Homo sapiens: one gene and its partners. The protein of the gene in region 4 interacts with the protein of the main gene of each other region in a pairwise test. Each region holds a gene or a part of one and is shown on either strand. Other genes may lie near its edges.

What was found.
Region 1: the proteins of ILKAP (region 4) and LMTK2 interact in a two-hybrid assay, tested with the Homo sapiens proteins (one study listed by BioGRID and IntAct).
Region 2: the proteins of ILKAP (region 4) and AATK interact in a two-hybrid assay, tested with the Homo sapiens proteins (one study listed by BioGRID and IntAct).
Region 3: the proteins of ILKAP (region 4) and ROR2 interact in a two-hybrid assay, tested with the Homo sapiens proteins (one study listed by BioGRID and IntAct).

Annotation. Positions count from the first base shown.
Region 1 is NC_000007.14:98,186,470-98,194,355, forward strand, and holds part of LMTK2 (serine/threonine-protein kinase LMTK2 precursor), read left to right. Parts: intron 1-407; coding exon 408-529; intron 530-4,258; coding exon 4,259-4,408; intron 4,409-5,144; coding exon 5,145-7,886. UniProt on the Homo sapiens protein: Phosphorylates PPP1C, phosphorylase b and CFTR.
Region 2 is NC_000017.11:81,116,795-81,122,107, reverse strand, and holds the end of AATK (serine/threonine-protein kinase LMTK1), read left to right. Parts: coding exon 1-1,907; intron 1,908-2,024; coding exon 2,025-2,172; intron 2,173-2,527; coding exon 2,528-2,728; intron 2,729-3,665; coding exon 3,666-3,706; 3' UTR 3,707-4,813; downstream 4,814-5,313. UniProt on the Homo sapiens protein: May be involved in neuronal differentiation.
Region 3 is NC_000009.12:91,722,905-91,730,790, reverse strand, and holds part of ROR2 (tyrosine-protein kinase transmembrane receptor ROR2 isoform 1 precursor), read left to right. Parts: intron 1-4,047; coding exon 4,048-4,250; exon of another isoform or gene 4,251-4,344; intron 4,345-5,683; coding exon 5,684-7,129; 3' UTR 7,130-7,886. UniProt on the Homo sapiens protein: Tyrosine-protein kinase receptor which may be involved in the early formation of the chondrocytes. It seems to be required for cartilage and growth plate development. Phosphorylates YWHAB, leading to induction of osteogenesis and bone formation.
Region 4 is NC_000002.12:238,186,118-238,194,003, reverse strand, and holds part of ILKAP (integrin-linked kinase-associated serine/threonine phosphatase 2C), read left to right. Parts: intron 1-4,031; coding exon 4,032-4,151; intron 4,152-5,746; coding exon 5,747-5,873; intron 5,874-7,886. UniProt on the Homo sapiens protein: Protein phosphatase that may play a role in regulation of cell cycle progression via dephosphorylation of its substrates whose appropriate phosphorylation states might be crucial for cell proliferation.

The DNA of each region.
Region 1 (7,886 bases), on a different chromosome or scaffold from region 4:
GGTAAATGGTAGAATGAGGACTTCAAACCCCGGTCTGTCAGAGTCTAAAGCCTACAGTCTTGCTCCCTAACTGGCTTCACTGTTCAGCGCATAAGTCCCAGTATATATTGTTTTAGTGTTTTGCTCAGAGTCTATGTTATATGCATCAGACACAGCGTACTTTCTTATCCAAGAAGGATGACTTAGCAAGCGTTCATGGCTCGCAGATGAGGTCATGAAGCCCAGGAGGCTTCAGCAAAACTCCTTACCCACTTTCTGCCCAGAAAGTCACTCTTCATGCCTGCTTTTTTTTCTGACCTGGTTTTTGGATTGGGTATATGTTTTCTGAGAATACCATGGATTTAAATTCTTGAACTCACCAAAAGTATAATTCTATTCAAAATTCTGTGTGCTTTCTAACAAAACAGGAGGATTATATTGAAACAGATGATAAAAAAGTTTTCCCTCTGCGATGGACTGCTCCAGAATTAGTAACCAGCTTTCAAGACAGACTGCTAACTGCAGATCAGACTAAGTATAGTAATATCTGGTACGTATTGGCTTACCGTTTTATTAGTCATTTCTTTGGCAAAGTCCTAACTTCTTCCTCTTTGAGTACTTCCTTAAAGGAAAGTAGTTGTATAAGATGTAGGAACAAAAGAGTATCTGATGGTGTGAAAAAGACAGTTTAAAAGACACAAATAGTAATTATCACAATTGTGGTGATGGAGTTAACGTTTTGAATACTGCCCCTGCTACCCATTTTCCTTTAGAAAAGCAGGAACCAAGTCTGTTTCATATTCTGTGCCTCCCACAGGGCCTGACATGTAATAGATATTTAATATGTATTTATTGAAGTGAAAGAAGAAACTGAAAGGGGTGTGGACTATCATGTTTATACTATGATTTATAGGAGTCAGTTTAATGGGAGCTAAAAAGATGCACCTAAAACTTTGACTAACAATTTCTGTCACAGCCTTCTTAATTTATAGCTATGTTTTATGTGCTGTTGTCCTGCTTTTTTTTTTCTCTCCTTGCTTTCTTTTGGATTGATTTCTTTAAAACAATTTTTTTGCTTTTATTATTTTTTTCATTGATGCATATAATTGGACATATTTATGGGGTACAGTGATATATATATATGTTTTTGTTGTTGTTGTTGTTGTTGTTGTTTTGAGATAGAGTCTCACTGTCGCCCAGGCTGGAGTACAGTGGTGTAGTCTCGGCTCACGGCTCACTGCAGTGTCCACCTCCCTGGTTCAAGTAATTCTTGTGCCTCAGCCTCCCGAGTAATTGGGATTACCAATATGTACTACCACACCATTTTTGTACTTTTAGTAGAGATGGAGTTTTGCCATGGCTGGTCTCGAACTCCTGAACTCAAGTGATCCGCCTGCCTCGTCCTCCCAAAGTACTGGGATTACAGGCGTGAGCCACCGCACCTGGCCCAGTGTAATATTTTGATACCTATATACAGTGTGTGATGATCAAATCAGGGTAACTAGTATCCCCTTCACTCCAGACATGTATCATTTTTTCTTTTTGTTTTTGGGAACATTCAAAAGCCGCTCTTAGAGCTGTTTGAAAATATACAAAAATTTGTTGTTAATTATAGTCACCCTTCAGTGCTTTAGAACACTAGATCTTATTCCTCCTTCCCAGCCGAAATTTTGTATTCGTTAGTCAGCTTCTCACTATTCCTCCTCTCCCTCCCCTTCCCTGCCTCAAGTAATCACTCTTCTACTCTCTACTTCTATGAGATCAACCTTTTTATCTTCCACGAGTGATGAGGTTTTCTTCCTTTTTCTTTCCCCCTTGTGTATCTGCTCTACCTAGTGTATCGTGAGTCTGATACTTCTGTGTTTTTTCATGTTGATGGTTATCCTCCTTTAGCTTCCAGATACAGGACTCCTGGACCATTTCTCTTAAGGCATGTCTCATAATGATGAATTCCTTCAGTTTTTGCTTATCTGGGAAAGACTTTATTTCTCCATTTTTTAAAAAAAGTTATTATTATATATATTTTTTTAGTAGAGACGAGGTCATGCTGTGTTGCCCAGGCTGGTCTTGAACTCCTGGCCCCAAGCAATCCTCATGCCTTAGTCTCCTAGAGTGCTGGGATTATAGTCATGAGCCATCGCGCCCAACCCTCCTTCATTTCCGAAGGATATCTTTGCAGGGCATAGTGTTCTTGGCTGCCAATTTCAGTACTTTGAGTATACCATCCTATTCTCTGCTTCCCTCCTATGTGACTTAATGCTTTTCTCTGGCTGTTTTTAGAATTTTTATCTTTGTCTTTGGCTTTTGACAATTTGACTATAATGTGCCTCTGAAATGACCTTTTGGGGTTGATTGTATTTTAAGGACCTTTGAGCTTCCTGGATCTGGATGTCTGTATCTCTCCCAAGACTTGGGAAGTTTTTAAGCTGTTCTTTCCTTAAATAGCCTTTCTCTGCCTTCTCCTAGCTCTTTTATTTCTGTAACTCCCATAATGTGTGTATTTGTTTGCACTGTAGTCTCCCATAAGCCCTGAAGCCTCCCTTCACTCCTTTTCATTCTTCTGTCTTTTTCCCTCTGACTGGGTGATTTCAAACAACCTTTCTTCAAGTTGAGAGGTTCTTCTGCTTGAGTCTGTTGTTGAAGTTCTGTATTTCTTTTTATTTCATTTATTGAATTCTTCAGCTGGGCTTACTGCCTGTGAGGACCCCAGGCGACCCCAGTGTGAGGACTGTAGTGTCCACGGTGAGCAGTGTGAGGATGTAGGGGTCCACAGTGAGATCCTCTTACTTGCCCTTACCTGGAAGAGAAAGTTGCTCCTGGTTCCTGGCTGCGCCTGCCAGGGATGGGGTGGTGGAGGCCAGGCGTTTCCTTCCGCTCTCGCTGTGGCTGTCCTGAATCTCCTGAGTACCTGTTACTCCTTTGATGGGCTCTGGTGCTCTCCTTTAGTGATTTTTGTCAAAATGTAGTTGCTTCTTTGTTGTTTGGGGCGTGTCGTGGAGGGTTAGCTGGACATCAGAATCACTGGGGAACTTTTTAAAACGTGAGTTTTCTAGGCCACACCTGGATCTACCAACTAAGCATCCTTTAGGGGTGGATCTGACCTAGCAGTGTGTGTGTTCACGGCTTCCCAGAGGACACAGATGAGAGTCACGTTCGGGAACATTGCAGTAAATAGACACAAATGCGGGATGGAGGCAGTGCGTGGTGGGGAGGAAATGCAGAGACCTCGTGGAGGAAATGAGAGGCAGCTCCTCTGACCCAGGAAGCCAGCAGAGGCTGTTTCCATGGGGACAGAGCACCGCAGTGTGAGAGAGGATTGGGCTGGGACTGAGAAGGGCGTTCCTGCTGTGGTGAGGCAGCCCTCAGGGTCTCTCCTGGCACACAGCTGCCAGCGTGATGGGGGATCCCTTCAGAATAGCAGCAAAACCCACGATACTGAGGAGTAACTCAAACCAAACTTGTGGGTCTCACAGAGAGGATATCGTCTTGCCCATGTAAAGATTCCTTTTAGATGGTTTCTGGTGTTTACTAATGTTGTTAATAGGTGTATTTTTCTACCAAAAAAAAAAAATCAGAATTCAGGGTATTTATCTTGTTTCCAGCAATTCTGCCAAATTTTTAGAACATTCTGATGGTCTTTCCAATAATTTATTGAGTACTTAAAAGTTGATAGTCATCTCATCCACATAATTACACCTATTATCTCTGTTTTGTACTTTTTTCATTGGCCAAAACTTCTAGGGTGGTATTCAGTAGCAAATAGGAGGCATGGTCTTCCTCATTTTAACAGAAATGCCTCTTTTTTTGCTATTGTGCTGTTGATTATTGGTTTCAGATTAAAGAACAATCTTGGCTGGTTGTGGTGGCTCACGCCTGTAATCTCAGCACTTTGGAAGGCCAAGGCAGGTGGATCACCTGAGGTCAGGACTTTGAGAGCAGCCTGGCCAACGTGGTGAAACCCTATCTCTACTAAAATTATAAAAATTGGCAGGGCATGATGGCTTGTGCCTGTAATCCCAGTTACTTGGGAGGCTGAGGCAGGAGAATCACTTGAACCCGGGAGGCAGAGGTTGCAGTGAGTGGAGATCACACCATTGCACTCCAGCCTGGGCGACAGTGAGACTCTGTCTTAAAACAACAACAACAACAACAAAGATCCTATTAATAATCTTTTCAATACACACCTTGTCCTTAAAATTACTGGCTATGTAACAAGTATGAGTGTTAAAAATTTGACATCTAAAGGGAGAGAGAAACAGCCATTTTCTTTTTCCAACAGGTCTCTGGGTGTGACACTTTGGGAGCTTTTTGACAATGCCGCACAGCCGTATTCAAACCTTTCCAACTTAGATGTCCTCAACCAAGTCATTAGAGAGAGAGACACAAAACTCCCGAAGCCCCAGCTGGAGCAGCCCTACTCTGATAGATGGTTGGTAGCCTCACATTCCGCCTGTTCTGTTTCGTCTTCACTGTGAGGTGTCCCCAAAACACAAAAAAATTCGTGGGCCAAATATTATGTTTCTTCATTTCCTCTTTCACCATGATGTCACCATGAGCTGAACTACTTAATGTGGTTGGCAGTGATGAAGGTGTAGAAATGTTTCGGGTGTTGAGTTGGCTTTAGGGTCCTTGTAAATTCTTTTCATATTGTTTATTTATTTATTTTTATTTAAAAAAAAATGTAGAGACAGGGTCTCAGTATGTTGCCCAGGCTGTTCTTGAACTCCTGGCTCAAGTGATCCTCCCACTTCAGCCTCCCATTGCCCCAGGATTACAAGTGTGAGCCAGGGTGCCTGGCCTCTTTTGATATTTTTAACTGATTCGGCCAGGCACAATGGCTCATCCCTGTAATCCCAGCACTTTGGGAGGCTGAGGTGGGCAGATCACGAGGTGAGGAGTTCAAGACCAGCCTGGCCAACATGGTGAAACCCCGTCTGTACTAAAAATACAAAAATTAGCTGGGCGCGGCAGCGGGCGCCTGTAATCCCAGCTGCTCGGGAGGCTGAGGCAAGAGAATTGCTTGAACCCAGGAGGCAGAGGTTGCAGTGAGCCGGGATCATGCCACTGCACTCCAGACTGGGTGACAGAGCAAGACTCCGTCTCGAACCAAAAAAAAAAAAAAAATTCGTGATGGTTCCACTGATTGCTTGTCGTGTGCTGCTCAGGTATGAAGTCTTACAGTTCTGTTGGCTGTCACCAGAAAAGAGACCCGCGGCTGAAGATGTGCACAGGCTGCTGACTTACCTGCGGCTGCAGAGCCAGCGGGACTCAGAGGTCGACTTTGAACAGCAGTGGAACGCTCTGAAGCCGAACACAAACAGCAGAGACTCCTCCAACAATGCTGCATTCCCAATTCTCGACCACTTTGCCAGGGACCGGCTGGGTCGTGAAATGGAGGAAGTCCTCACCGTGACCGAAACCAGCCAGGGCCTGAGCTTCGAGTATGTCTGGGAGGCCGCTAAGCACGACCACTTTGACGAGCGCAGCCGGGGCCACCTGGACGAAGGCTTGTCCTACACGAGCATCTTCTATCCGGTTGAAGTTTTTGAGAGTTCGCTTTCAGATCCTGGGCCCGGAAAGCAAGATGACAGCGGCCAGGATGTCCCCCTGAGGGTCCCTGGAGTGGTTCCTGTTTTTGATGCCCACAACCTTTCTGTTGGAAGCGACTATTATATCCAGTTAGAAGAAAAAAGTGGTAGTAACTTGGAGCTTGATTACCCACCAGCGCTGCTCACAACCGACATGGATAATCCAGAAAGGACTGGCCCTGAACTGTCCCAGCTCACGGCGCTCAGGAGCGTTGAACTTGAGGAGTCCAGTACAGATGAGGACTTCTTCCAAAGCAGTACAGACCCCAAAGACTCTAGCTTACCAGGGGACTTACACGTGACCAGTGGCCCCGAGAGCCCTTTCAACAATATATTTAATGATGTGGACAAATCGGAAGATTTGCCCAGTCACCAAAAAATATTCGACTTAATGGAATTAAACGGAGTTCAAGCCGACTTTAAACCTGCCACTTTAAGTTCCAGTTTGGATAACCCCAAAGAGTCAGTCATAACAGGCCACTTTGAGAAAGAAAAGCCCCGTAAGATTTTTGACAGTGAGCCTCTCTGCCTATCAGATAATCTTATGCACCAAGATAATTTTGATCCATTGAATGTTCAAGAATTGTCAGAAAACTTTTTATTTCTTCAAGAGAAAAACTTACTAAAAGGCTCATTGTCCAGCAAAGAACACATAAATGATCTTCAGACAGAACTTAAGAATGCTGGTTTTACTGAAGCTATGTTAGAAACGTCATGTAGAAACTCTTTAGATACTGAGCTTCAGTTTGCTGAAAATAAGCCAGGCTTGTCTTTGTTGCAGGAAAACGTAAGCACAAAGGGTGACGATACAGATGTCATGCTCACAGGTGACACTTTGAGCACCTCATTGCAGTCTTCCCCGGAAGTGCAGGTACCTCCTACCTCCTTCGAAACAGAAGAAACGCCCCGTCGGGTACCCCCAGACTCACTCCCAACACAGGGAGAAACCCAGCCCACGTGTTTAGATGTTATTGTCCCGGAGGACTGTCTCCACCAGGACATCAGTCCAGACGCTGTGACTGTCCCGGTTGAAATTCTCTCAACTGATGCCAGAACCCACAGCCTGGATAACAGGTCCCAGGACTCTCCTGGCGAGAGTGAGGAGACCCTGCGACTCACCGAAAGTGACTCTGTTCTTGCTGATGACATCCTTGCCAGCAGGGTGAGTGTAGGGAGTAGTCTCCCGGAACTGGGACAGGAATTGCACAATAAACCATTTTCGGAAGACCATCACAGTCATCGCCGGCTAGAGAAAAACTTAGAGGCTGTGGAGACTTTAAATCAGCTCAATTCTAAAGACGCAGCAAAAGAAGCAGGCTTGGTGTCTGCCCTCTCCTCGGACTCAACCAGTCAGGACAGCCTCCTGGAGGACAGCTTGTCAGCACCCTTCCCAGCCTCTGAGCCGTCCCTGGAAACCCCGGACTCTCTGGAGTCAGTGGATGTCCACGAAGCGCTACTGGACTCTTTAGGATCTCACACTCCCCAGAAACTAGTGCCCCCCGATAAGCCGGCAGACAGTGGCTACGAAACAGAGAACTTGGAGTCTCCCGAGTGGACCTTGCATCCCGCTCCCGAGGGCACCGCAGACTCAGAACCAGCCACCACGGGCGATGGCGGCCACAGCGGTCTGCCTCCCAACCCGGTCATTGTCATCTCAGATGCCGGCGATGGTCACAGAGGCACAGAAGTGACCCCTGAGACGTTCACAGCTGGCTCCCAGGGTTCATACCGAGACTCTGCGTACTTCTCAGACAATGACTCTGAGCCCGAGAAAAGGTCTGAGGAGGTCCCGGGAACCTCCCCATCCGCCTTGGTGTTGGTACAGGAGCAGCCCCTACCCGAGCCAGTCCTCCCCGAGCAAAGTCCTGCTGCCCAGGATAGCTGCCTGGAAGCCAGAAAGAGCCAGCCAGATGAAAGTTGTCTGTCTGCTTTGCACAACTCCAGTGACCTGGAATTAAGAGCCACGCCGGAGCCAGCACAGACTGGTGTTCCCCAGCAGGTGCATCCCACGGAAGACGAGGCCAGCAGTCCCTGGAGTGTGCTGAATGCAGAACTTAGCAGCGGCGATGACTTCGAGACACAGGACGATCGCCCCTGCACCCTCGCTTCCACGGGGACCAACACGAACGAACTCCTTGCCTACACCAATTCTGCGCTGGACAAGTCCCTGTCCAGCCACTCCGAGGGCCCGAAGTTGAAGGAGCCGGACATCGAAGGGAAGTACCTGGGGAAACTCGGGGTGTCAGGGATGCTCGACCTCTCAGAGGACGGGATGGATGCAGACGAGGAGGACGAAAACAGCGACGACTCGGACGAGGA
Region 2 (5,313 bases), on a different chromosome or scaffold from region 4:
CCTCGCCCTCGGCGGGGCCCCTGAGTCTGGCGGAGGGAGGAGCGGAGGATGCAGACTGGGGCGTGGCCGCCTTCTGTCCTGCCTTCTTCGAGGACCCACTGGGCACGTCCCCTTTGGGGAGCTCAGGGGCGCCCCCGCTGCCGCTGACTGGCGAGGATGAGCTAGAGGAGGTGGGAGCGCGGAGGGCCGCCCAGCGCGGGCACTGGCGCTCCAACGTGTCAGCCAACAACAACAGCGGCAGCCGCTGTCCAGAGTCCTGGGACCCCGTCTCTGCGGGCGGCCACGCTGAGGGCTGCCCCAGTCCAAAGCAGACCCCACGGGCCTCCCCCGAGCCGGGGTACCCTGGAGAGCCTCTGCTTGGGCTCCAGGCAGCCTCTGCCCAGGAGCCAGGCTGCTGCCCCGGCCTCCCTCATCTATGCTCTGCCCAGGGCCTGGCACCTGCTCCCTGCCTGGTTACACCCTCCTGGACAGAGACAGCCAGTAGTGGGGGTGACCACCCGCAGGCAGAGCCCAAGCTTGCCACGGAGGCTGAGGGCACTACCGGACCCCGCCTGCCCCTTCCTTCCGTCCCCTCCCCATCCCAGGAGGGAGCCCCACTTCCCTCGGAGGAGGCCAGTGCCCCCGACGCCCCTGATGCCCTGCCTGACTCTCCCACGCCTGCTACTGGTGGCGAGGTGTCTGCCATCAAGCTGGCTTCTGCCCTGAATGGCAGCAGCAGCTCTCCCGAGGTGGAGGCACCCAGCAGTGAGGATGAGGACACGGCCGAGGCCACCTCAGGCATCTTCACCGACACGTCCAGCGACGGCCTGCAGGCCAGGAGGCCGGATGTGGTGCCAGCCTTCCGCTCTCTGCAGAAGCAGGTGGGGACCCCCGACTCCCTGGACTCCCTGGACATCCCGTCCTCAGCCAGTGATGGTGGCTATGAGGTCTTCAGCCCGTCGGCCACTGGCCCCTCTGGAGGGCAGCCGCGAGCGCTGGACAGTGGCTATGACACCGAGAACTATGAGTCCCCTGAGTTTGTGCTCAAGGAGGCGCAGGAAGGGTGTGAGCCCCAGGCCTTTGCGGAGCTGGCCTCAGAGGGTGAGGGCCCCGGGCCCGAGACACGGCTCTCCACCTCCCTCAGTGGCCTCAACGAGAAGAATCCCTACCGAGACTCTGCCTACTTCTCAGACCTCGAGGCTGAGGCCGAGGCCACCTCAGGCCCAGAGAAGAAGTGCGGCGGGGACCGAGCCCCCGGGCCAGAGCTGGGCCTGCCGAGCACTGGGCAGCCGTCTGAGCAGGTCTGTCTCAGGCCTGGGGTTTCCGGGGAGGCACAAGGCTCTGGCCCCGGGGAGGTGCTGCCCCCACTGCTGCAGCTTGAAGGGTCCTCCCCAGAGCCCAGCACCTGCCCCTCGGGCCTGGTCCCAGAGCCTCCGGAGCCCCAAGGCCCAGCCAAGGTGCGGCCTGGGCCCAGCCCCAGCTGCTCCCAGTTTTTCCTGCTGACCCCGGTTCCGCTGAGATCAGAAGGCAACAGCTCTGAGTTCCAGGGGCCCCCAGGACTGTTGTCAGGGCCGGCCCCACAAAAGCGGATGGGGGGCCCAGGCACCCCCAGAGCCCCACTCCGCCTGGCTCTGCCCGGCCTCCCTGCGGCCTTGGAGGGCCGGCCGGAGGAGGAGGAGGAGGACAGTGAGGACAGCGACGAGTCTGACGAGGAGCTCCGCTGCTACAGCGTCCAGGAGCCTAGCGAGGACAGCGAAGAGGAGGCGCCGGCGGTGCCCGTGGTGGTGGCTGAGAGCCAGAGCGCGCGCAACCTGCGCAGCCTGCTCAAGATGCCCAGCCTGCTGTCCGAGACCTTCTGCGAGGACCTGGAACGCAAGAAGAAGGCCGTGTCCTTCTTCGACGACGTCACCGTCTACCTCTTTGACCAGGTGGGCCGCCGCCACCCGGGGTCTGCCCGGGGCTGGGGGTCGCGCTCCCGCAGGAAGGGGTGGGAGCGGCCGCGGCTCCTGGCGGCCGAGCTACCTGGTGCTCTCTGATTCCTCCAGGAAAGCCCCACCCGGGAGCTCGGGGAGCCCTTCCCGGGCGCCAAGGAATCGCCCCCTACGTTCCTTAGGGGGAGCCCCGGCTCTCCCAGCGCCCCCAACCGGCCGCAGCAGGCTGATGGCTCCCCAAATGGCTCCACAGCGGAAGAGGGTGAGCAGGGGCGGGGCTGGGCCCGTGACGTCACGGGAGGCAGGGCCTGGTCCGTGCTGTGTGGGAGGCGGGGCCTAATGTGTGACATCATGGGAGGAGCACCTGGTCCTTGACGCGTGGGAGGCGGGCTTTGGCCCGTGTCGTCATGGGAGGCGGGTCTGGTACGTGACGTCACGGAAGGCGGGGCCTTGTCCGTGCTGCATGGGAGGCGGGGCCTGGGCCCGTGACATCATGGGAGGCGGGGCCTGGGCCCGTGACATGATGGGAGGCGGGGCCTGGGCCCGTGACTGTGGGAGCGGGGCCGGGCCGGGGTCCCAGGCTGTGAGCGCGAGTGACGCCGCGACCTGGGCTGCAGGTGGTGGGTTCGCGTGGGACGACGACTTCCCGCTGATGACGGCCAAGGCAGCCTTCGCCATGGCCCTAGACCCGGCCGCACCCGCCCCGGCTGCGCCCACGCCCACGCCCGCTCCCTTCTCGCGCTTCACGGTGTCGCCCGCGCCCACGTCCCGCTTCTCCATCACGCACGTGTCTGACTCGGACGCCGAGTCCAAGAGAGGTGAGGCCTGGGCGGGGCTGTGGCAGAAGGGCACGCGGGAGGCAGGGCACGGAGCTCCGAGGGTGGGGCCCCTCCGTCTAGGTCCTGGGCCGGGCCAGCCCCGGCTCCGCTCCGCTCCGCTCCTTCCCGGCCCCGCTCCTTCCCGGCCCCAGACCTAGCCTGGACCCCGCCTGGCCCTCGCCTGGCCCTCACCTGACCCTCACCTGACCCTCACCTGACCCTCACCTGACCCTCACCTGGCCCTCACCTGGCCCCTGCACTCGGCTCTCCTCTGCCTGACCCTACCCCGCAGACCTGCGGCAGGCCCTCTCACCGGAACCTTCCCAGCCAGAAGTCCCTGCAGACCCAGGTCCCACGGTGCCCCGGCCCCACGGTGCCCAGGTGGAGCCCTGCTGGGGGCCTGAGCCACCGCTCCCGGCCATGGCCCTCCACTATCCGCCCCACCCCAGGCTGGGCTCATCTCTGCCAGGTGTCCCTACCCCTACAGCCTCTGCCCACGTGCCTGACAAGTGCCCACCTCCTCGGAGAAGGCCCCCTGCCAGCTTCCTCTTCCCTAGCTGTCCTGGCCTGTGGCTGCAGCCCTGGGGGAAGGGCCTGTCAGCCTCACCCCTGGTGCAGGGTGCCCCCTGTGTGGCTGAACAAGCAGGCAGGTCACCAGGAGGCCACTGCATGACCTTGGCCATCCCCTTCCTGTTCAGGCCTCAGTTTCCTTATGCGTAAAACAGGACTCGGAGGCATTTGCTGAGAGTTGTTGGCCTGAGTCCAGTGACAGGAGTGGGGGAAATGGGTCCATCTCTCACCTAGACACAGCCAGATCTGCTGCAGGGAAGGGGCCCGGCCTGTATGTGGGCCAGGGATGGAGGCCAGGTGGGAGTTGCGGGGGAGGCAGCCCTGGTGTCTCAGAACCCTGTGTTCACTTTGTTGTCCTGCTTGCCAGGACCTGAAGCTGGTGCCGGGGGTGAGAGTAAAGAGGCTTGAGACCTGGGCAGCTCCTGCCCCTCAAGGCTGGCGTCACCGGAGCCCCTGCCAGGCAGCAGCGAGGATGGTGACCGAGAAGGTGGGGACCACGTCCTGGTGGCTGTTGGCAGCAGATTCAGGTGCCTCTGCCCCACGCGGTGTCCTGGAGAAGCCCGTGGGATGAGAGGCCCTGGATGGTAGATCGGCCATGCTCCGCCCCAGAGGCAGAATTCGTCTGGGCTTTTAGGCTTGCTGCTAGCCCCTGGGGGCGCCTGGAGCCACAGTGGGTGTCTGTACACACATACACACTCAAAAGGGGCCAGTGCCCCTGGGCACGGCGGCCCCCACCCTCTGCCCTGCCTGCCTGGCCTCGGAGGACCCGCATGCCCCATCCGGCAGCTCCTCCGGTGTGCTCACAGGACACTTAAACCAGGACGAGGCATGGCCCCGAGACACTGGCAGGTTTGTGAGCCTCTTCCCACCCCCTGTGCCCCCACCCTTGCCTGGTTCCTGGTGGCTCAGGGCAAGGAGTGGCCCTGGGCGCCCGTGTCGGTCCTGTTTCCGCTGCCCTTATCTCAAAGTCCGTGGCTGTTTCCCCTTCACTGACTCAGCTAGACCCGTAAGCCCACCCTTCCCACAGGGAACAGGCTGCTCCCACCTGGGTCCCGCTGTGGCCACGGTGGGCAGCCCAAAAGATCAGGGGTGGAGGGGCTTCCAGGCTGTACTCCTGCCCCGTGGGCCCCGTTCTAGAGGTGCCCTTGGCAGGACCGTGCAGGCAGCTCCCCTCTGTGGGGCAGTATCTGGTCCTGTGCCCCAGCTGCCAAAGGAGAGTGGGGGCCATGCCCCGCAGTCAGTGTTGGGGGGCTCCTACCTACAGGGAGAGGGATGGTGGGGAAGGGGTGGAGCTGGGGGCAGGGCAGCACAGGGAATATTTTTGTAACTAACTAACTGCTGTGGTTGGAGCGAATGGAAGTTGGGTGATTTTAAGTTATTGTTGCCAAAGAGATGTAAAGTTTATTGTTGCTTCGCAGGGGGATTTGTTTTGTGTTTTGTTTGAGGCTTAGAACGCTGGTGCAATGTTTTCTTGTTCCTTGTTTTTTAAGAGAAATGAAGCTAAGACAAAAGAAACCTTTGTGTGTTGTCTTCTGAGGTCTGCCGATGATAAAGTCCTGGACAGGAGGGGCTGTGCCAGGAACCCGATGCCAGCCCTTCCTGGGGCCAGGAGGAAGCTGCCCCTCTCCTCTCCTCCCCACTGTCCTCGGCACACCCCGGTGGAGGGGATGGTGTTCTGGCCCTACTGTGTGTGGGGGCGCAGGGGTAGCGCCCTGCAGGTCTCCCTTCCTGCAGGCCGAGTTGGCCTGGTAGGGACGGGTGAAGAATGGACCTACAGGCCTCTCCAGGACAGCCTCCTCCCTGCCCTTCTGAGGGCAATGTCTGTCTGTCCCTGGGCCCAGGGTGGAAGGCGGAGGCAGGAGAGTTGAGCACAGCTGGGCTTCCCTGCACCCTCCGCTGGCCAGCTCTCAACTGCCCTCCTGGCCCGCCAACTCTACAGCTTCCTGTCCCCGGGGTGTGAGTGGCTGTAGGCGGGAGTGAGCTCTGCTGGAGACACCTCCCCAGCCAGGTAAGGG
Region 3 (7,886 bases), on a different chromosome or scaffold from region 4:
GATCTTACCACAGTGACCATTTTAAATAAAGCTGTTGGGCCACGCGTAGTGGCTGATGCCTATAATCCCAGCACTTTGGGAGGCCGAGGTGGGCAGATCACTTGAGGTCAGGAGTTCAAGACCAGCCTGGTCAACATGGTGAAACCCCATAAAAATACAAAAATTAGCCAGGTGCGGTGGCACATGCCTGTAATCCCAGCTACTCAAGAGACTGAGGCAGGAGAATCACTTGAGCCTGGGAAGCGGAGGTTGCAGTGAGCCAAGATTGTGACACTGCACTCCAGCATGGACAGCAGAGTGAGACCCTGTCTCAAAAATAAATAAATAAATAACGCAAGTTATTGGTTGTTATGAAAGTAACATCTGACCATTACAAGACATTTTAAAATATAGAAAAGTCTGAAGAGTAATGTCAGATCACCCCTAATGTTACCACCCAGTAGTGACTTGTTTGCGTTTTGGCCCACCCCCTTCCATCAGCCCTTTTCCCATGTATGGATGGTCCTGGGATATTCACTTTGACATTTTGTTTCTCCATTAACATTATCTCCCAGTGCGGTGGCTCACAACCTGTAATCCCAGTACTTTGGGAGGCCAAGACGGGTGGATCTCTTGAACCCAGGAGCTTGAAACCAGTCTGAGCAACATGGCAAAAACCCGTCTCTACAAAAAATACAAAAATTGTCCAGGCGTGGTGGCACACCTACTTGGGTGGTGGAGGTGGGAGGATTGCTTGAGCCCAGTAGTTCAAGGCTGCAGTGAGCCATCATGGTGCCACTACGCTCCAGTCTAGGCAACAAAACAAGACCTTTTCTCAAAAACAAAAAACAAAAAACACCATTATTGCTCAGTAGTTCCTAATATTCGTAAAAATATTTCCCTTCCACCCACCAGCTTTTGAGCTTTTCACTGCTTCTCAGATTTTACACTTAGGTTTGGTGGAGTGAGGCGAAAATAGAATTCATTGCTTGTCCTCATTCCTTGCAAGTGTGTCTGTAATGTCATGAATATGGAAGCTCACGTGGCTGATGGTTGACAGCTTCGACAGTTCTCACCTCTGTCTTAGTCATGCCCGGTTCACCAGTCCAGGCAGCAGGGTAACCAAGGCTGGGCTGGGAGCTGGAAGCAGCAATTGGTGAATGAGTGGGCACCCGCGGATAAAGAGAGAGCAGCCGGTGAAGCGAGGCTGGGCTCACCATGCACCTGGAGATCTCCTCCTGGGGTGCAGGCCCGCGTGTCTCTACTCCGAAGTGCAGGAAATAAACACTGGCACTAATGACCTTCCTGATGTGTGATTCAGCAGCTCCAGATTTGGCATTGCCTCTGGCTCAGCAGATCAGACACAAATCTTCAAGAATGTGTTCATTATGGGAGAACAAATTTTAAGAATGAAATTATCAGTCATTCAAATTGCGGTCTAGGCACTCTGGAGCACTCCAGACCTTAAAGCTGTCCTGCAATGAAGGATGGCCCTGTGCCCTGTAAGGAACAAAAGCAGGTTGTAGGACAGAACTGTGTTAGAGGTGCTTTTTTGCTTATTGTTTTGTTTCTGGCAAAAGGAAAATGAGTGGGAGTTTGTGTGTGAGCACACACAGGCTCCTGACTTTTACGAGGTTTTGGAAAGATGGATATCAAACTTTTAGCAGTGATTTCCCCAGACCTACAAAAGTGTTCAAATACAAGACTTTTTTTTTTTTTTTTACAGTGAGTAGGAATTACTTTTGTAATTAAAAATAAATCAAAGCATGAAAAAAATGTATGATTTTGGACCAGTCAATTCTTAGAATCTTGTATCGCAGGTTTGTACTTACAGGGCATAAATGGAAGGATATTTATTGCAGAATCACTTGTGAGAGCTAAACATAAAACAGACTGTTTATCAGTAGGGCTGGATGGGGCAGTTGGAGACGCCTGTGCTGTGGAGTGGCATGCAGCTGTGGGAGAACACACATATCTATCTGCTCCAACATGAGCTGCTGTCCAAGAGATTTTATTCTGCCAAAAAAACAGGAGCAGGAAAATATGGATGACACGATTCTATTTAAAATCAAGTTCATTTAGGCCGGGTGTGGTGGCTCACGCCTGTAATCCCAGCACTTTGGGAGGCCAAGGCAGGCGGATCACCTGAGGTCAGGAGTTCAAGACCAGGCTGGCCAACAGTGCAAAACCCTGTCTCTACTAAACATATAAAAATTAGCCAGGCATGGTGGCGGGCGCCTGTAATCCCAGCTAGTCGGGAGGCTAAGGCAGGAGAATCACTTGAACCCAGGGGGCAGAGGTTGCAGTGAACTGAGATCCCACCACTGCCCTCCAGCCTAGGAGATAGAGCGAGACTCCATCTCAAAAATAAATAAATAAACAAACACTCTGTCTCAAAAATAAATAAAATAAAGTTCATTCAACATTCGAATTAAGAAAACCATATAAAACTACTGTGTCTATATGTCAGAATAGTTGAATATCGGTTGTTCCATGTGGTTCAACCTAAAATATACATAAAGTTAGGAGAACACGAAACTTAACCATTTATAGCCTTTGGGAAAGAGGACTGTTAGAAATACTATCTTTTGAAAGGCCACATTTCTGTAATACTACAGTTTTTCCCAGTAAGCATGAGTCATGTTGGTAATGTTAAGTAGATAATAAAAGCAGGTGATGGTGTCAGTGTGAGCTCACACCTCTGGTCTTGGCGTGAGAGTGGCCTGGACTCTCCTGCTAACCTTAATAATGAAAAATGAACCAAACCCTAGTAAAAAAGAATGAATCGGCATCCCCAGTGCCCCGAAGATTTCTGGAACACCTGCCTCAGAACCCTTTCAGAGGGGAAGCTGCTAGGTGGGGCCAGAAGAAAGTTTTGTTTGTGGTTTTACTTGATTTCTTCTTATTTGGGGGAGCAGGGGTGGGGCAAGGCTGGGTTTTGGGACAAGGTGCTTTTTTCCTAAGGTGGCAGTAGCATGTTCACTTTTAGAACCGAGTTAGCTCTTTTAGGCCTCACACTGACCAGAAATCACTTGTTTGCTTCCAGATGAGAAGCGCTTTGCCCCCTGGCCATGGGGCCCTCTAAGTCTGATATAGTTATTTGCAAGGTTAAGGAGAAAACAGAACACCGTGGTTTTCTGGGGATGTGGGAAAGTGGCTCTCTAGAGAACTCACCTTCCACCAGGCTTAGGGTCAGCGTCCTGAAACGGCACCACTTTGTCTTACATTCAATTGCTTTGACGTGTGGGGTGCTTGGGGCCACGCAGCCTGGGAGGAGCCAGCCCTGCCTGGAGTCCTGCTCAGAATCTGAGGTCACCTCAGCCTGCCTGGTGTGCCCCCTGTACCTTTCTGTAAATCCTGTAGAGGGAGACAAAGAGTTACTTTTCCCTGTGATTTAAAAAAAAAAAAAATGCAGGGAAGGTAGCTGGTGGCCTTGAATCTTGGTACCCAGTGCTTTCCAAGAATTCTTGTGCCCCTGTTGCATATTGTATTGGGTCAAGAGCATGGACTACTGGTGCTCTTTTAAATCTAGTGCATGTTTAATTATTACCCTAAAAGAATCTGTCATCATTAGATAAAAATGTGAAGAAAACATTAAAATGTTGAATGAGGAAAAGGATCGTGTCTAATCCCAGTACCAAGTTTCACTCACCTTGGACAAGGGTCTCCAGTGAATTTCATGAACTTGTCAGTAGCTGGGGAGACCTTGATAAAAGTGAAATTGGGCAGAGCACCTATCTCCGATGGTATTCAAACATCAGGAACAGAAAGCGGATGTGGTCGTTATTAAGATCATTAGAATTCATTTACTTTTTATACTGCATATTCCCGCTTGTTTCCAGGTTGGGCAGTTTTGGGTTTTGTTTCCCCAGGATGCAGCCGGGTGTGCATTTTTTGGTGCATCATGTTTTTTAAGGTGTGGTGTGCCCTTTTACCCCATTGTGTAACTTAGGTGATGACACACGTGCACGTGAAGATTTTGGCTGGAGGTGGAGAGTGGGTTGGTAGAGAACTTAGAGTAGAAAAGGGATGTTTTCTGAAAAATCACGAAAGCCTTATTGTTCACAGGTCCCCGAGACAGCAGCAAGATGGGGATTCTGTACATCTTGGTCCCCAGCATCGCAATTCCACTGGTCATCGCTTGCCTTTTCTTCTTGGTTTGCATGTGCCGGAATAAGCAGAAGGCATCTGCGTCCACACCGCAGCGGCGACAGCTGATGGCCTCGCCCAGCCAAGACATGGAAATGCCCCTCATTAACCAGCACAAACAGGTCTCCATGCCTTACATTTTCTACCCGGGTGGCTCTTCCAGGTTTAATCCTCAGGGGTTGTTTCCCCCAACATTAAATGTCTTAATTTACTTGATACATAGCACATAATTATTTTAAACTCCGCTTCATTTTGCCATTTTTTTTTTCTGTAAACTAGATCAGGACATGTGTGCTTTAGAAAATAAATGGCAGGCGTGTTGGGAATTCACTGCCCCAGAGTCCATGGGCCTCCTTCTGCCTGGACCATGCTGCCCCTGTGGGCCCCAGCGAGTGTCCTCACTGTCCAGGTGCCTCAGCTCTGCCCAGAAGACACACAAGAACAACAGGGCTCCAATGCTCCCCATAATTTTTCTTGACACTTTTGGGTTGGGTTGGTTTTGCTTTGTTTTGTTTACAGGGAAGGATAGGAGAATAGCTCTTAAATGGGAGTAGGTGGACAGGCTACCACTAAAAGGCCACCCCTCATCCCAGAGCAGCCTTAGATGGGGGTGGGGCACTGAAATACAACAGATGAGAACATGTGCTGCAGCCTCTCCAGGTTGTGTTGTAAAAGGGCATTTACACTCATTGCAAGCCGTAGGTAACATCATTCTCAGCCAGCTTTGCAGGGGCTCTTCAAGGTGGCCAGGAGGGAGCTGATGCACTTGGCTCTTCAGTCCCAGAGTCGGTGAGAGTTTGCTATGGGCAGGGGCTGGCCAGCGAGGAGGGCACAGAGCCCCGGGGCTTGCACGGAGGCCCAGGAACCTCTGGGGAGGATGAGGGCTGGCCACACGGGAGGAGCTGGTGTCATAGAGGCCGAGAGAGATGCAGGGTTCTCAGGGCTCCTATCACCTGTGGGGTACTCTTTCCAGGAACATGTTTAACAGAGACCCTAGTCAAGAGGCCCATGGACAGGCCCATTGAGGGAACCTCTGTAGAACAACTGGCTTGGACTCTTATAAGTGACAAAATTGCCAAGACAAAAATGTCGTGGGAAAGCCTCTGTGGGGTCCATGAGAAAAAGACATCACATCTCACGTGATGTGTCGGCACACATGGGGGTTGGAGGGAACCTGGCAGGGTATGTCCGGGGCAGCCCCAGGGCAGCTGGTGCCTGGGCCTGGCTGTAGGGTGTGTGTGTGTGTCCACACATGCACAAGTGGGAAGGAAGTCAGTGTGTCCCAGCTGGATTTTGGAGGGACCTTATTTGTAGCCTGGTTGGGATCTGTGGAAGATTGCAGATGGGAAGCAACCTTGGCATCAGAGCCGTATTTAAGGTTAACTAGAGAGCTGTGGGTGGGCAGGCCAAGGCTGGGTGGGCAAAACCAGCGGGTCTTCTGCAAGGCCCCCCTAGTCGTGGCCGCACAGGGACTCCACTCCTCCCGGCTGCTCTGCAGCTTCCTCCAGGGCTGCGGTGACAGTGATGTTTCACGTGGGGCTTTTCTTCTTGACAGGCCAAACTCAAAGAGATCAGCCTGTCTGCGGTGAGGTTCATGGAGGAGCTGGGAGAGGACCGGTTTGGGAAAGTCTACAAAGGTCACCTGTTCGGCCCTGCCCCGGGGGAGCAGACCCAGGCTGTGGCCATCAAAACGCTGAAGGACAAAGCGGAGGGGCCCCTGCGGGAGGAGTTCCGGCATGAGGCTATGCTGCGAGCACGGCTGCAACACCCCAACGTCGTCTGCCTGCTGGGCGTGGTGACCAAGGACCAGCCCCTGAGCATGATCTTCAGCTACTGTTCGCACGGCGACCTCCACGAATTCCTGGTCATGCGCTCGCCGCACTCGGACGTGGGCAGCACCGATGATGACCGCACGGTGAAGTCCGCCCTGGAGCCCCCCGACTTCGTGCACCTTGTGGCACAGATCGCGGCGGGGATGGAGTACCTATCCAGCCACCACGTGGTTCACAAGGACCTGGCCACCCGCAATGTGCTAGTGTACGACAAGCTGAACGTGAAGATCTCAGACTTGGGCCTCTTCCGAGAGGTGTATGCCGCCGATTACTACAAGCTGCTGGGGAACTCGCTGCTGCCTATCCGCTGGATGGCCCCAGAGGCCATCATGTACGGCAAGTTCTCCATCGACTCAGACATCTGGTCCTACGGTGTGGTCCTGTGGGAGGTCTTCAGCTACGGCCTGCAGCCCTACTGCGGGTACTCCAACCAGGATGTGGTGGAGATGATCCGGAACCGGCAGGTGCTGCCTTGCCCCGATGACTGTCCCGCCTGGGTGTATGCCCTCATGATCGAGTGCTGGAACGAGTTCCCCAGCCGGCGGCCCCGCTTCAAGGACATCCACAGCCGGCTCCGAGCCTGGGGCAACCTTTCCAACTACAACAGCTCGGCGCAGACCTCGGGGGCCAGCAACACCACGCAGACCAGCTCCCTGAGCACCAGCCCAGTGAGCAATGTGAGCAACGCCCGCTACGTGGGGCCCAAGCAGAAGGCCCCGCCCTTCCCACAGCCCCAGTTCATCCCCATGAAGGGCCAGATCAGACCCATGGTGCCCCCGCCGCAGCTCTACGTCCCCGTCAACGGCTACCAGCCGGTGCCGGCCTATGGGGCCTACCTGCCCAACTTCTACCCGGTGCAGATCCCAATGCAGATGGCCCCGCAGCAGGTGCCTCCTCAGATGGTCCCCAAGCCCAGCTCACACCACAGTGGCAGTGGCTCCACCAGCACAGGCTACGTCACCACGGCCCCCTCCAACACATCCATGGCAGACAGGGCAGCCCTGCTCTCAGAGGGCGCTGATGACACACAGAACGCCCCAGAAGATGGGGCCCAGAGCACCGTGCAGGAAGCAGAGGAGGAGGAGGAAGGCTCTGTCCCAGAGACTGAGCTGCTGGGGGACTGTGACACTCTGCAGGTGGACGAGGCCCAAGTCCAGCTGGAAGCTTGAGTGGCACCAGGGCCCGGGGTTCGGGGATAGAAGCCCCGCCGAGACCCCACAGGGACCTCAGTCACCTTTGAGAAGACACCATACTCAGCAATCACAAGAGCCCGCCGGCCAGTGGGCTTGTTTGCAGACTGGGTGAGGTGGAGCCCTGCTCCTCTCTGTCCTCTGACACAGAGAGCTGCCCTGCCTAGGAGCACCCAAGCCAGGCAGGGGGTCTGGCAGCACGGCGTCCTGGGGAGCAGGACACATGGTCATCCCCAGGGCTGTATACATTGATTCTGGTGGTAGACTGGTAGTGAGCAGCAAATGCCTTTCAAGAAAATAGGTGGCAGCTTCACTCCATGTCATATATGGAGTGAATATTTCAAAACGTTGGGAATAAGGGCCTGCAAAAGGCAGCGAGGAGGCACCTCGGGTCTTGAGGTTCCTGACAACCGATCTGGTCTGTTGGTTTGAGGATGAAGGGGCTCCATTTCTGCTGCCTCCCTGCTGAGAATATTCTCCCTTTAGCAGCCAAAGATTCGCTGGAACGGAGGCTGCCCTCTGCTGCCTGTTGGGGTCGGAAGACAAGGGGCTTCTGAAATGGGAGTTCCTGAGATACAACAAAATGTGTGCCTTCAAAGAAACTGACAGCTTTGTATTTGGTGAAATGGTTTTAATTATACTCCATGTGTATTTTGCCCACTTTTTTTGGGAATTCAAGGGAAAGTGTTTCTTGGGTTTGGAATGTTCAGAGGAAGCAGTATTGTACAGAACACGG
Region 4 (7,886 bases):
TAACATTTTTTAAAAATTCAGAGTTCATTATTCCGATTTGCCTTGTTAAACAGAGTGCTTGACTCAAATGTATCGAGGCTAGTAGCATTGGCTCTACCTCCTCCTGAAAATGTTCCTTTTCATGTCCTAATTAAGTAGAAGGGAAGAATAGAGCAGATTCCTGTTGCCATTGCGGCAAAGGTATGATTCTGTCTCATGAGAACTTCTTAGGTAGAGCTCCTCTGGTTGGGGAAGGTGAGGGTTAGGAGAGGTTGGGAGATAGATGGTGTGGGGGCAGTGGGGAATGCAGGTAATCCCATTTCGTATGCAGGTATATTTTCTATATTTTAGGAAAAGTACTCCAGTCATCTTATATAAGAATTCTCAATCTTCAGGGCTGTAGACCCATACCAAAAAATTGCAGCATCCTCACACTCACAGTGTGGCCTGAAACCTTCCCAATAAAGATAGTACCCTTAGTTGTAATGAAAGTTAATATGTTCTGGCTGGGCGTGGTGGCTCACGCCTATAATCCCAGCACTTTGGGAAGCCAAGGCGGGTAGATCACTTGAGGTCAGGAGTTCAAGACCAGCCTGGCCAACATGGCGAAACCCTGTCTCTACTAAAAATACAAAAATTAGCCAGGCATGGTGGCATGTGCCTGTCGTCCCAGCTACTCAGGAGGCAGAGGCAGGAGAGTCGCTTGAACCCAGGAGGCAGAGGTTGCAGTGAGCTGAGATCACGCCATTGCACTCCAGCCTGGGTGACAGAGAAAGACTCTGTCTCCAAAAAAAAGGAAAGTTAATATGTTCAAAGAAGGCTGTTAAGGGATTTAATAGAAGAAATGAAGATACAGCATAGCTGTCTCTTATTTATCTACAGGACAAAAGGCAAAGTAGTAAAAAATTTAGAAGATTTACATAACACTATTAACAAGCTTAATTTTTTGGATATATAATCTTGGGTCTAGTGTTTTAGATTTCTAGAGAAGTTAACACATTTTTTTTTTCTTGAGACGGAGTCTCACACTCTCACCCAGGCTGGAGTGCAGTGGCACAATCTTGGCTCACTGCTACCTCCACCTCCCGGGTTTAAGCGATTCTCCTGCCTCAGCCTCCTGAGTAGTTGGGACTACAGGCGTGTGCCACCATGCCTGGCTAATTTTTGTATTTTTAGTAGAGACAGGGTTTTCCCATATTGGCCAGGCTGGTCTCGAACTCCTGACCTTGTGATCTGTCCGCCTCAGCCTCCCAAAGTGCTGAGATTACAGGCGTGAGCCACTGCACCCAGCCGATAACACATTCTTTTTTTTTTTTTCCTTTTTTGAGACTGTCTCTCTCTCTGTTGCCCAGGCTGGAGTGCAGTGGCGCGATCTCAGCTCAGTGCAAGCTCTGCCTCCCAGGTTCATGCCATTCTGCTGCCTCAGCCTCCCAAGTAGCTGGGACTACAGGCTCCCGCCACCACGCCCACCTAATTTTTTTGTATTTTTAGTAGAGATGGGGTTTCACCATGTTAGCCAGGATGGTTTCCATCTCCTGACTTCGTGATCCGCCTGCCTCGGCCTCCCAAAGTGCTGGGATGACAGGTGTGAGCGACCTTGCCCGGCCCGATAACACATTCTTAAGCGGGCAGGAACCATTTACAAAAGTTGATTATGTACTAAGCCATAAAATAAGCCTCAATGATCTGTTTCTTGTACAGACTACATTCTCAGACTACAGTGTAATTTGCTTAGAAGTCAATAACAAACCTGTAAGGTGTCTTTATTTTGAAATTTTATTATTTTTCTTTTTTTCTTTTTCTTTTTCTTTTTTTTTTTTTAAGACAGTCTCACTCTGTTGGCAGGCTGGAGTGCAGTGTTGCGATCTCAGCTCACTGCAACCTCTACTTCCCGGGTTCAAGTTCCTGTCTAAGCCTCCCGAGTAGCTGGGACTATAGGCACCTGCCACCACACCCAGCTAATTTTTTGTATTTTCAGTAGAGACGGGGTTTCACCATGTTGGCCAGGATGGTCTCAATCTCTTGACCTCATGATCCGCCTGCCTCTGCCTCCCAAAGTGCTGGGATTACAGGCATGAGCCGCTGCGCCTGGCCTTTTTCTTTTTCTTTTTTTTTTTTTTGAGATGGAGCCTTGCTCTGTTGCCTAGGCTGGAGCGCAGTGGCGAGATCTCAGCTCACTGCAGCCTCCGCCTCCTGGGTTCCAGTGAGTCTCGTGCCTCAGCCTCCCGAGTAGCTGGGATTACAGGCGCTACCATGCCCGGCTAATTTTTTGTATTTTAATTAGAGACCGGGTTTCGCCATGTTGGTCAGGCTTGTCTTGACCTTCTGACCTTAGATGATCTGCCCATCTCAGCCTCCCAAAGTGCTGGGATGACAGGTGTGAACCACCACACCTGGCCATCTGTTTTGGAATTTTAAAGGAAGAAAGTTTCACATCCATATGGGGAAAACTGGAACCCATACAGTAAGCCACAGGACACTAATGGGGACCTTTGGGAGAGATACTGTTGGAAACATCTGTGTTGCCTTATGCAGGGTGCATATGTGTATTATGTTATACTGTTGCAGAAATAGGGCCTTGTGCAACTAATTTACGCTTCTTGAGGGCAGGAACATTTTCATTACTTTTTCCTCAGCACTAAGAAATGTCTGACACAGGCGGTTCAAGACCAACCTACCCAACATGGTGAAACTCCGTCTCTACTAAAAATACAAAAATACAAAAATTAGCTGGGTGTGATGGTGCACTCCTGTAGGCTGAGACAGGAGAATTGCTTGAACCCTGGAGGTGGAGGTTGTAGTGAGCTGACGTTGCGTCACTGCACTCGAGCCTGGGCGACAGAGTAGACTCCGTCTCAAAAAAAAAAAAAAGACACCTTGTGTTTACCAAAAAAATTAAAAAATTAGCCGGGTGTAGTGGTTCCTGCTTTCAGTCCCAGCTGCTCAGGAGGCTGAGATGGAAGGATCACTTGAACACAGGAGTTGGAGGCTGCAGTAAACTGTGATCATGCCACTGCATTCTAGTCTGTGTGACAGAATGAGACCCTGTGTCAAAAACAAAAAGAAGAAGAAATGTCTGGCAAAGAGTAGGTTGAGTAAGTAAATAAGTACTTGCATCCTTTTTTTTTTTTTTTTTTTTTTTTTTTTAAAGAGAAACGTCTTACTACTTTGCCCAGGCAGGTCTCAAATGCCTGGGCTGAAGTGATCCTTCTGCCTCAGTCTCCAGAAGTAGCTGTGACTGCAGGCATGTGCCACTGCATCTGGCTGTTGCATACTTTTATACCTAAATGCAGAGAACATTTCAAGTCATTTATTAGGACAGCAGCTGCCCTTATTGGAGATTGATGTGTTAGGCACTGTGACAAATGCTCTTCCTACTTGTCCTGACCCATTTTCAAACATCCCTCTGAGATGACAGTATTCTTACCATGTTACGCACGGGTGAAGACAGCTGAGACTGAAAGATTAAGTTGCACACCTCTTTGAAACTTGACTTTTCTCATTTCAAACACATACACTGCAGATTCCCTTAGCTTTGAGTACAGATTCATCCTTTTGCTAGTGGGAACAGCTGTGGCAGCCTTATTTTGCCTTTGAAAGGATGTATTACAGTTCTTAAAGGCTGCCATTTACCTCATTTTGAGCCTTTTCGAGTACTTGTTACTTTTTGGAACGTGATTAGGATATGTTAGTTTGCTTACAGATTTTGTAAGTGTTTGTTTAACACTAAGAGCCTGTGGATATAAAAACATGTATATGCTACAGGCCAAAAAAAACCATGTATTTTTACCACTGGGAAAAGTCTTTTACAAACCCCTTCAGCAGGGTCAGTTTGACTCAGGGCCTGGATCTTAACTTTATGTTCTCTCACTGTGGGACCCCCCTCCCCCTCCCCGCCAACCATGAAGACACAACTCCTGGGTCTGCCTGTGTCTGCCAGTCCTTGCTTCAAATGACCTTGTCTTTGAGTGCTAGGATGAAGCCCAGTCTACTAGTGACTTTTTCCAACAGTCTACAGCTGTGTTTCTGTCTGGCTTTTACTTTATTTCCAGGTTCTCTTGCCACATCAATATCCCAGATGGTAAAGACTGAAGGGAAAGGAGCAAAGAGAAAAACCTCCGAGGAAGAGAAGAATGGCAGTGAAGAGCTTGTGGAAAAGAAAGTTTGTAAAGGTTTTCAGACAATTTGAAAACAAATGTATTAGACTTCATATTTTAAAACAACCCAGAGCAAAACCAGTTTCAGCTTTCTAATAATACTTTCTTTTTATGTCTGTATTTAAGAAATAAGTAGGGTTCCCTTTTTGCAAATGAATTTCCAAGTTTCTCTGTGCTTTCTCCTACTTTTCATGTACATCTATCTCTGATCCTACCTTTGATCAGATAGGAAACCTACATTTGTTCCTCAAGAGTTAAAAAATACAGGTGGTTTTTTTCTTAGCCTTCTGCAGTGAATGGTTAGTTTTTTGACCACCTAGTCTCTCTCTGACTTCCAATCTTTGTTTGCAGTTTGTCAATTAGTGCTTTGAATTACGTGATTTAGCTTAGTAGGCAGCTTCCCTAAGCCTGGAAAAAGCCGTTGAAATTTGTAGTCAGTTGTGTAACTTGTCAAAGTTAGTGAGGAAGAAAACGAAAAGTATTAACTAAAGAGAATACTTCAGTTGTGGTACTAAAGTATTCTTGAGCTGTGGGATTTTCTTTTTTTCTCTTTTTTTTGAGACAGAGTCTCGCTCTGTCGCCCAGGCTGGAGTGGCACCATCTCGGCTCACTGCAAGCTCCGCCTCCCGGGTTCATACCATTCTACCTCAGCCTCCCGAGTAGCTGGGACTACAGACGCCTGCCACCACGCCTGGCTAGTTTTTTGTATTTTTAGTAGAGACGGGGTTTCACCATGTTAGCCAGGATGCTCTCGATCTCCTGACTTTGTGATCTGCCCGCCTCGGCTTCCCAGAGTGCTGGGATTACAGGCGTGAGCAACCGTGCCTGGCCCGAGCTGTGGGATTTTCATTGACTGCATTGTCCTTTGTCACAGATTACCTCAGTGAAAGCTGTATGATGCAGGCAGAGGTATGTGAAAAAACCCACTTGTAGCTTTGCTGGGAAGATGTCATCTTCAACTTAGCTTGTCACTTCCCAGAAGACAGCTCTTCACAGTGTTCATTTTATTATTTGTCTGGCATTAGGTATCAGAAAATAAGCTTAAATGAGTCTAACCATTAAATGTAAATAGATCTCTGCCTGCATTGGAATCTTTTATCCTTTTCTTCCTCAGTTGAAGTAAAAGCAGCTGATCTTACTGTTTGTTCAAATTCTTCACCAGCCTTGAGCATGGAAATACATATTTTCAGGGCATCTTAAGGGCTTTTGAGATAAACTCTCCTGACTTGCATTTGTCCTTATTCAATTATCACAAGACTAATTTGCACATGATCCTTTTGCCTGATTTGAATCTCACTTCTCTGGGATGGCAGCACATCCCTTGCCCTGATGCTTTGACTTACACCCTAGACAGAGTTGTTTTGTGCTCACTGACTCCTCTTTTGTGTCCCTGTGCAACCTCTTAGAGCTCACCCTGTCCAACAGTGCTCCGATTTGAGTTATAGACTTGCAGCTGGGGGAGATGCCTTAAGGGGTATTGCTTATTTGTTTGCGCCATTAGGATATTGCTGAGTCAGACAGTCATAGTTCCCTCTCATTTGCTCTGGGACTAGGGTTTCCAGAGGGTTGGGCACAGTTTTGTATTGGCTCTTTTGTTCTCTTTTCCTTAGCCTCTTCGGTGATCTTTGGTCTGAAGGGCTATGTGGCTGAGCGGAAGGGTGAGAGGGAGGAGATGCAGGATGCCCACGTCATCCTGAACGACATCACCGAGGAGTGTAGGCCCCCATCGTCCCTCATGTGAGTCTCATGTGGTAGGAAGCCCGGCTGGCATTAACATCTCCTGGGTTCTGACTGGCATTTTGGACTGGCTAGTTTGTATTTACTAGAAAATCTAACACATCACTTGATTGTACATCAGTGATTCTCAGCTGGGGTTGATTTTGCTCCCCGCCCAGGGGACATTTGTCAGTGTTTGGGTACATTTTTGTCACAACTGCGGGAGGGAGTTGTTACTGGCATCTGGTGGGTAGAGACTAGGGATGCTGGTAAACATCTTAGAAGCACAGGGCAGCCCCACAACAAAGAATTGTTCAGCCTGGAATGTCAGTAGTGTCGCGGTTGAGCAGCCCTGCTGAGCGGGAGATGACGCTTCATAGCATGGCTCTGCAGCGTGTGTTACTCCTTACCAGCAACTGAGCGGCTTCTGGCAGAGAATATTTTTAATCCATGACCTAGAAGATAAGAGTTGGAAGCCACTAATTAAAGTATGAATGGTGATCAAGCAGAGCTAGTACAGATAATCAGGGCCCAGGAAGAACAAAAGTCAAAATGATGTCAAGGAAAAGACAGACAATGAAAAATTAGCTGCAACTATACAAACTAAAATGAAGCCTTCTGGATAAGCTCTTGGGCCTGGAAAAAAACCAGAAGGTAGGACATTAAGTTGGCTGTAAACATACATTATAGTACATATTACATAGGTTACATAATTCAGAATTACATAATAAATACATTACGTACCTTTACTGACACCAGTTGGTCATTAACATACAGTGTGCTGGAGCCGTTTGGGCTGATGGCGTTTGTCCAGTAGATGAGGTCTGCTCATGGAGATGAGGTGATGGCTGCTGCAGAGCAGCTGATCATATGTAGAGGGGACGAGATACACACCCATTGAGACAGGGTCTTGCTGTCTTGCTCAGGCTGGAGTACAGTGGCACAATCATAGTTCATTGCAGGCTTGACCTCCTAGGCTCAAGCAGTCCTCCCACCTCAGCGTCCTGAGTAGCTGGGACCATAGGCATGTGCCACCACAGCCGGCTAATTTTTTGAATTTTTTGTAGAGACAGTGTCTCCTTAAGTTGCTCAGGCTTGTCTCAGAGTCCTGGGCTCAAGCCATCTTCCCACCTTGGTCTCCCAAAGTGCCAGGATTACTCGCATGAGCCACCATACCCAGCCTGGGATTTGCATTAAAACCAGGAAAGGGACCTCTGGAGCCCAAGAAGGCAGATCCATTGAGTGTAAATTTAATTGGGAACACTACATCATGCCTTGCAAATAACAGGCAGTAAGAACAGCTCTGAGTTATAAACCAGATGAGGTTTTTTTTCTCATGGCTCAGGATGTCCTAAATTGAAAAGGAATTCCAAAAAACTTGAAAGAAAAGCAGCTCTCTAGAATAAATGTCATTTCTCGTGGGCATTTTTGTTTTTTTTTTTTCCTTGAAATAGTTTATTTGATGTCTTTTATTCCATATATGTGGGTTTTCTGGCAAAATTTGAAAGGGGAATGGGAATAAGAGTAGTAAGATAGGTTTTAAAAATGAGATATTTAAAATTTATTTGAGTAACAATTCTGTAATATCCTCCCTGCTCTTATGCAGTCATGTGCTGAATAACAACATCAAGTCAGTGATGGACTGCATATATGACGGTGCTCCCATAAGATTACAAATTTTGTAGAGATGGGGGTCTCGCTATGTTGCCCAGGCTGGTCTTGAACTCCTGGCCTCAAGTGATCCTCCTGCCTTGGCCACCTCCCGAAGTGTTGGGATTAACAGGCGTGAGCTGTCGTGTTCAGCCATAATACCATGTTTACTGTACCTTTTCTATGTTTAGGTATGTTTAAATACACAAATACTACCAGTGTGTTACAACTGCCTATGGTATTTAGTGCAGTAACATGCTGTGCAGTTTAGCCTAGGAGCAATAGGCTCTACCATGTATGTAGCTTAGGTGTGTAGTAAGCTGCGCCGTGTTAGTTTCTGTAAATATGTTCTATGATGTTCACACAACAAAGTCACCTAACAAT